Homo sapiens: one gene and its partner. The protein of the gene in region 2 purifies or fractionates together with the protein of the main gene of each other region. This does not show direct contact. Each region holds a gene or a part of one and is shown on either strand. Other genes may lie near its edges.

What was found.
Region 1: the proteins of COL4A6 (region 2) and SUMF1 fractionate together in Homo sapiens (co-fractionation; one large-scale study listed by BioGRID). This does not show direct contact.

Annotation. Positions count from the first base shown.
Region 1 is NC_000003.12:4,450,246-4,453,832, forward strand, and holds part of SUMF1 (formylglycine-generating enzyme isoform 1 precursor), read right to left. Parts: intron 2,805-3,587; coding exon 2,631-2,804; intron 1-2,630.
Region 2 is NC_000023.11:108,169,420-108,173,006, forward strand, and holds part of COL4A6 (collagen alpha-6(IV) chain isoform B precursor), read right to left. Parts: intron 3,114-3,587; coding exon 3,050-3,113; intron 2,043-3,049; coding exon 1,968-2,042; intron 1,499-1,967; coding exon 1,391-1,498; intron 1,298-1,390; coding exon 1,190-1,297; intron 598-1,189; coding exon 526-597; intron 202-525; coding exon 76-201; intron 1-75. UniProt on the Homo sapiens protein: Type IV collagen is the major structural component of glomerular basement membranes (GBM), forming a 'chicken-wire' meshwork together with laminins, proteoglycans and entactin/nidogen.

The DNA of each region.
Region 1 (3,587 bases), on a different chromosome or scaffold from region 2:
GAGATACACTGATCGATTCTTGTTGATGGACAACTTTCAATCTCATCAAATTAACTATAGCCAGTACTCCAAATGACTCTCAAATCTCTACCTCTAGTGCTGTCCTGTTCTTACTAGATGAAATTAACTGAGTACTGGATCCTTATATTGCAGATCTTACAAGCATCTCCAACTCCTTTTCCGGAGTGGAGGCTGCCATCTTTTCTTCACCCCTAATCTTCTTCCTGCATTCCCTTGTGACACTGCCATGACTAACTACCTAAGCCATTTAGTTATTCAACAAACATGTATCAAACACCTACCATGTGCTCAGTTTGGGGCTAAATTAGGGGATATAAGGTCAATATCAGATAGCCATGGCCCCTATCCTTATTGTGCTTAAGTGTGGGAGCACAGAAAAAAATCAAGCCAAACAACGAATGGAAGACAATAATTATAACTTTACTACACCTTGTAAGGTAGAGTGTCATGAAAAACTTTCTTGAGAAAGTGACATTTAAGCTGAGATGACTCAAGAATGAGAAGGAGCCAACCATGCAGAAGGGGGATAAGCAAGAGGACTGCGAATTCCAAGCAGAGAGAAAATACGGGCCAAGTTCTTGAGGTGGGAAAGAATGTTGAGTTTTCAAGGAATAGAAACAAAACCAGCAGGGCTAGAACATAGTATACAAGAGGAGCATGATATAAAGTAAAGCTGGAGAGATGGGAAAAGAGTGCCATTAAAAAAACAGAGCATTTTGTCCAAGGCAGTTCTTGGTCCTTTTTGAGCTCCTTGGCAGTATGGTGAAGCTTAAGAACCCCCTTCTCAGAATAAAATGTTTAAATGCATAAAATAAAATCAATAAAAAAATAAAATAAAATAAATAGTATTATGAAGAAAAGTCATTATATCAAAATATTAATAAACAAACCAGTGCTATAGTATTAAATATGCTCTTCATTAATATATTAAATAAGATCTAGTGGCAGGTCTCATAATTATCATATTTCAAAGTGGGGATGAATGCAAACAATATTTCAAGATCTCTGCAACAACAAAAATATGATTAAAAATGTCTGTGATTTCTACTGGTAACAAAGTTAGAGGTACTGCTACTACTGCTGTGGTTTGCTGTTTGCATCATAATTGAAGAAAATACTACATTGTGGCTCGAGGGTAGTAAATAACCAGATATATTAGGTTGCTGCAAAAGTAATCGCGGTCTTTGCCATTAAAAGTAATGACAAAAACCGTAATTACTTTTGTACCAACTTATAACTTTTCCCTATCCATGTTTTTAGATGCCCCAAATTCTGCTTATTCTATCTAATCTTCATGGAGAACCCTGGTTCTGTAGAAGTCTTCTAACTTAAGTAAACTATTGAGGAACCTGAGCTGAGAGTATCTCTGTGAAACCAAAAGGAAAAGGACTTCTGCTTATTACGAATGTGTACAAAAACGGTTTTTTTGTTTTTGTTTTTGAGACAGAGTCTTGCTCTTCTTCCTGGAGGGCAGTGGCCGGATCTCGGCTCACTGCAAGCTCCGCCTCCCGGGTTCATGCTATTCTCCTGCCTCAGCCTCCCAAGTAGCTGGGACTACGGGTGCCCGCCACCATGCCCGGCTAATTTTTTGTACTTTTAGTAGAGACGGGGTTTCACCGTGTTAGCCAGGATGGTCTCGATCGCCTGACCTCGTGATCCACCCACCTCAGCCTCCCAACGTGCTGAGATTACAGGCGTGAGCCACCGCGCCTGGCCCAAAAAAGGTTTCTAACCACTTTATATATTTGAGAAAATTCCAAAGAAATGTGACAATGCAAAACCAAATCTGAAAGTTGTTTTACTTTAAACATTCACTCTCAAATTATTCATTTAATAATAATTTACAAAAAGACATTTGGGGTCTTAAAAAAAAAAAAGAATAGGGACCCCACGAACTGAAGACAAGAGTAAAGGTTTTTCGTGAGAGAAAACTGGAAAGCATATAAAATAAGTATATTTCAGAAACTGACATAAACATTCATAGACTAGAAAGCTTTCCTCTTCCTATTCCCATTTAGGAAAGCATCCACTATCAGAACCTTGCTTTGTGATTCAGTGACCACCAGATGATGTCTGGAACTGCTATAGCACAGCATGTGTGAGTTGTCAAGGTGTTGGAATAAAGACACGAAAATGAAAAGCTGCACTTCTGCATTTATCACTTAAAAAATATGAAATGCTTCTGGAAAAAAACAAACTGCAACTTACTGAGAAGAAAAGTGGTCTTACTTTACATGCCATCTGTTATCTCAAAAAGCCTTAGTGGACAGTGGTATTCTCTGACACATTAAGCATTAACACAATATAGCATAATAGTTATAGCACATGTTCTGAGGTCAAACTGGCCAGGCTGGAATCCCAGCTCTACCACCAACTAGCTGTGTGATGTGGGGCAAATAACTTTTCTTATCCTCAGTATGCCACCTGAAAAATAACCTGCCTCATGGGGTTGCTGTGAGAAATTAAGATGAAATATATACAATAAAATGCTTCACACAGTTCTGCCACAGAATGCAGTAAAAATGGTCAGTCAATCTTAGCTGCTATTAAAGCATTCTTAAAAGTTCTGGAAAAGAACAAGTTCTCCCTCCTTTCCCCAATCCCATTACCTCTGTCAAATAGCCAGTTGAGTTCACAAACTTCTCAAATTCAGTATTACTGACTTCATAGGCATCCATGTAAAAGGCATCAATAGTAACTCTCCTCGCAGGTGCTTCCCCATCCTGCTTTATCTGAGGATCATCTGTGCCCATTGTAAATACTCCAGCAGGGATGGGGACCATCTACAATGAAAGGTGAAACACAGGAAGTCATGCATCACAGCCAAGGTGTACCTGTGTAGGGGTAAAGTTCCTAGCACCCAGGAAGCACGCAAGTTTGTAAATCTTCACCACAGTAATAACTGTAAAATTCGGAAAAATCTCTCTATACCCCAAAGAAGGTGAATCACGAGTCTCAAAAAGAAGTGAAAATTCTTTAAGAAGGTAATCTCCTTAATCAAACCACTACTTGATACAAATCTGTACCTGCACTGGAAACAGGTCTGGAATAACAGTCACCAAGCCGCTAACGGCTAGAATGCAGAGGTAGCGAGAATATCCCACTTTTCTTTTTTTTTTGAGACAGGTTCTCACTCTTTTGCCCAGGCTGGGGTGCAGTGGCATGATCAGGGCTCACTACAGCATTGACTTCCCAGACTCAAGCGATTCCCCCAACTCAGTCTCTCAAACAGCTGGAGTACAGACATGTGCCACCATGCCCAACTAATTTTTTTTTTTTTTTTTGAGACGGAGTCTTGCTCTGTCGCCCCAGGCTGGAGTACAGTGGCACAATCACGGCTCACTGCAACCTCCACCTCCCGGGTCCAAGTGATTCTCCTGCCTCAGCCTCCTGAGTAGCTGGGATTACAGGCGCCCACCACCATGCCCGGCTAATTTTTGTATTTTTAGCAGAGACAGGTTTTCACCAAGTTGGCCAGGCTGGTCTTGAACTCCTGACCTCAGGTGATCCACCCGCCTCGGCCTCCCAAAGTGCTAGGATTACAGGTGTGAGCCACTGCGCCCGGC
Region 2 (3,587 bases):
GGCCCTGCTGTACCCTAAACCTGACTCTCCCAGCAAGGCCTCACTCAGCCTCTACAAGGCCTGACTTGGACTCACCTCGATCACCTTTTTGCCCTCTCAGGCCCGGCTTCCCTGGAGCTCCGATGCCAATTCCTGGATATCCTTTTTCTCCTTTGGGTCCAGGGAGACCAGCAGGCCCAGGCACACCGGTGATACTAGGTCCTAGGAGGAGATGCAGGGGTAGGGGGCAGACCTCAGTGGAGGTGAGGCCTTCCTGCCTAACTCACTCGCCTGTGGCCTGAGAAGCCTGACTGACAGACACCAGAGGCAGAGTACTGAAGTAACAAGAAAGAAAGTTAATCTGAGTAGAAGAAAAAAACCCATCCTCTTTCTTCTCCATATCAAGGGACCTCAAATTGGAGGTTAATAAGGAGAGCTATGAGTCCAAGGATATGGGATACACCACAGTCGAGAATTCATGGCCAGCCCTTGCCAGGCTTCTGGAAGAGCTGATGCCCTCCTCTTCACCCTGAGGGTCTTCCTAACCTGGAGTGCCATGGGTACCCTTGGTGCCCGGAAGCCCATTCAGTCCATGTAAACCAGGAAATCCAGGGAAGCCTGAGGGGAGAGAATGTCAAAAATGGCTCCAGCAACTCTGAATCATGAAGCATCAGCAAGAGGTAGCTACCTGCCCCCAAAGGCATTGCGAGGTCCTTATTTTAAAGTCCTGGTCTTTTTTGAGGCATTTACTTAATGCCCTAAGGGAGAAGAAAACACTCCCAACCTATATCCTACACCACAGGTTCTCATGACTCTTATCAGAGACCAATACAGCTTTAGGAGTAAGATGGCAGCTCATTAGGTATCTTGAAGAAGAACTCAGAGTAGCAATGTCAAGACCTTGAGTTGTCAGCTCCCAGAGACTGGTTCCAGAAACTCACTGCCCAATCTCTAAGTCAGGGAAAGGCTACACATGCCAGGGCAATTGCCTTCCTTGCTAGCTCTTCTCTTCATGGATCCCATATTCTTCTCTTCACACTCATGCTTGCCTGCCTTCATTACTCTTCATCTTCCTTTCCCATGATTCCTCATGTCCAATGACTCCTGTAGGCATGGCTTAACCCTAGCTAGTATCTTCTAAGATAAAGTAGTTGGTGTCCTTCATCGAGGGAAAGACTTTTCCCCACTGCCTGCTCCCAAATACACATACCTTTGGGTCCTATTAATCCGGGGGATCCTAGAGGCCCAATTGCCCCTTGGTGACCAGAAGAACCTGGAAGTCCTGGTTCTCCTCTCATGCCGGCAACTCCTGGAAATCCTAAATGTGAAACCAAGGCAGAGGTTCAGAATGGGGCATGGCTTGAAGCTAATCCAAACTCTTTCAGAATAAGGTTATCATGTGGCATGGTACCTGGAGCTCCAGGAAGGCCAACATCTCCAGAAACACCAACTTTTCCATCTTCACCTTTGTTTCCAGGGAAGCCTATATTGCCTATTAGTCCATCTCTTCCTTTTGTGCCTATAAAACCAAGAAAAATGCTGAGTGATTAGGCCATATTTCTAGCAGTGTATTCCTCTATGGGAAAGAGTAGATTCTGAATTGCTGAAGGAGCTAGACCCAATGAAGAAACTCTAAAAAAGATAGTGGTGGCTGTTTTCACATTAGAAAGGTGCCCTACAATTGAGAAGCAAGTAAATTTGTTATGAGTATCCCTTCAGAAGTGGGAGCAATAAGTGGAAATGTTCAAGAAGGACAGTTTAGATAACAACTTCTAAACTAAGGGGATGTAGGCCATTATCCCAAAGGTCTTTGCCAGTCTATGAGTCTTGAAGGAAGAGTAGGCTGATTTGCTTGGGGAATTGATAGATAGGAAATTTTCTGCACTGGATAGAAGTTGCAGAACTTGGGGTTGACCTCCAAAATTCCTTCTAATCCTCAGTTTTGTGGAGTCTGTGAGGCAAACAAGACAAAAATATAGCAACCTTACCTTTAAAACCAGATTCGCCAGGCTGTCCCTTGGGTCCTGGGCTACCGGAAATTTCAACTGTCTGGCCGTTGTCTCCTGAGGATTCCAATACATTGTTTAAATGGCCAGGAGAAGCTATAGCTCATTTTGCACCACTGAGATCTTTTGAACACATTTTTTTTTTCAGATTCAGTGTAGCCAGAGGAGCTCCTTGACAAAATTATCTATTGGGTAAAAAGTGATGAACCACCATCCAGGAGCTGGGATGCTGCTACCAGACTACTGGCATGAAATGCTGCTACATACAGCATATCTCCATTGGGAAACACATCACTAGGCTCAGTATGGGCAGAGAAGATGGTAGGCAGGGCCCTCAAACATCACCAGAATGGAACAGTGATGCCAGCAAGAATGGGAAATTTTCCTGCCTAGTGGGCTGGGTTTATCAGGGGAAGAGACTGGAGCCGAGGTTCTCCTCGCTGCTAAGTCTGGAAAGCAGATGGGCAAAACCACAAAGCCAAAGGACAGCCTTTTCCTTGGATCCATGAAAGCCACAGAGAGAGATCTTGGTAAGTACCATTGTTTGTTGCATTGTCTGTGAGGAACAAGGACTGCAAAAGGGGTTTGGCCAAAGGGAAAATGTAAATTAATTGACTTTCCCCTAAACACAGACTCTCCGCTACCCTCGCAAGAGACCCTTGGGATGGCCAGGTGCAGTGGCTCACGCCTGTAATCCCAGCACTTTGGGAGGCTGAGGTGGGCAGACCACGAGGTCAGAAGTTTGAGACCAGCCAGACCAACATGGTGAAATCCGTCTCTACCAAAAATACAAAAATTAGCCGGGTGTGGTGGTTAATGCCTGTAATCCCAGCTACTTAGGAAGCTGAGGCAGGAGAATCGCTTGAACCCGGGAGGCAGAGGTTGCAGTGAGCTGAGATTGCGCCACTGCACTCCAGCCTAGGTGACACTAGGTGACAGAGCGAGACTCTGCCTAAAAAAGAAAAAAAAAAAAAAAAAAAAAAAAAGAGAGAGACCCTTGGGCCTGCTAGAAATCTACCTTGCTCTAGAAGAAAACATTAAAAGAAAAAAAAAATGCTCCTTACCTTTCAGGCCTGGGAGACCAGATGCTCCTGGGAGTCCAGGCGACCCTCTGATACCTTGTGAACCCTTCGAAGCAATATGGGAATCATCATTTCTGCCCAGAGCTCAGGACTGCCCACCCTCTTACTTCCTCACCCCTCACTGAGCCACTGCCTGAGAGATGTCCATCATGTATTCTGTGGCAAGGGTGGACTGTGGGCTGGAAGTGGGGATGTTATGTCCTGCAAACGGGAAGGTGATGAACAAAGGGCAGAGCACATACTTAGGGTTTGTAGGGGAAGGATTCGATTCCACTGCTTATCAAAATGGGAATCTTAGAAAGTCACAGTGTGGCCATTCTAGCGAGTCTCTCAGAAAATGCAGAAGATGACAGGCCAGGCACTCAATGGACTCAACACACAGTTGGCTACCACTGTCCTTGCCAAAGCTCTGGAGCCATTATGCATAGGAAGAAGTTTCACTTCACCCTGCAGGGTTAGCCCTCTGCCACAGGTTCCGCAAGGAACACAAGTTCTTTCTGCCACCAGGTAGCAGGTGGTA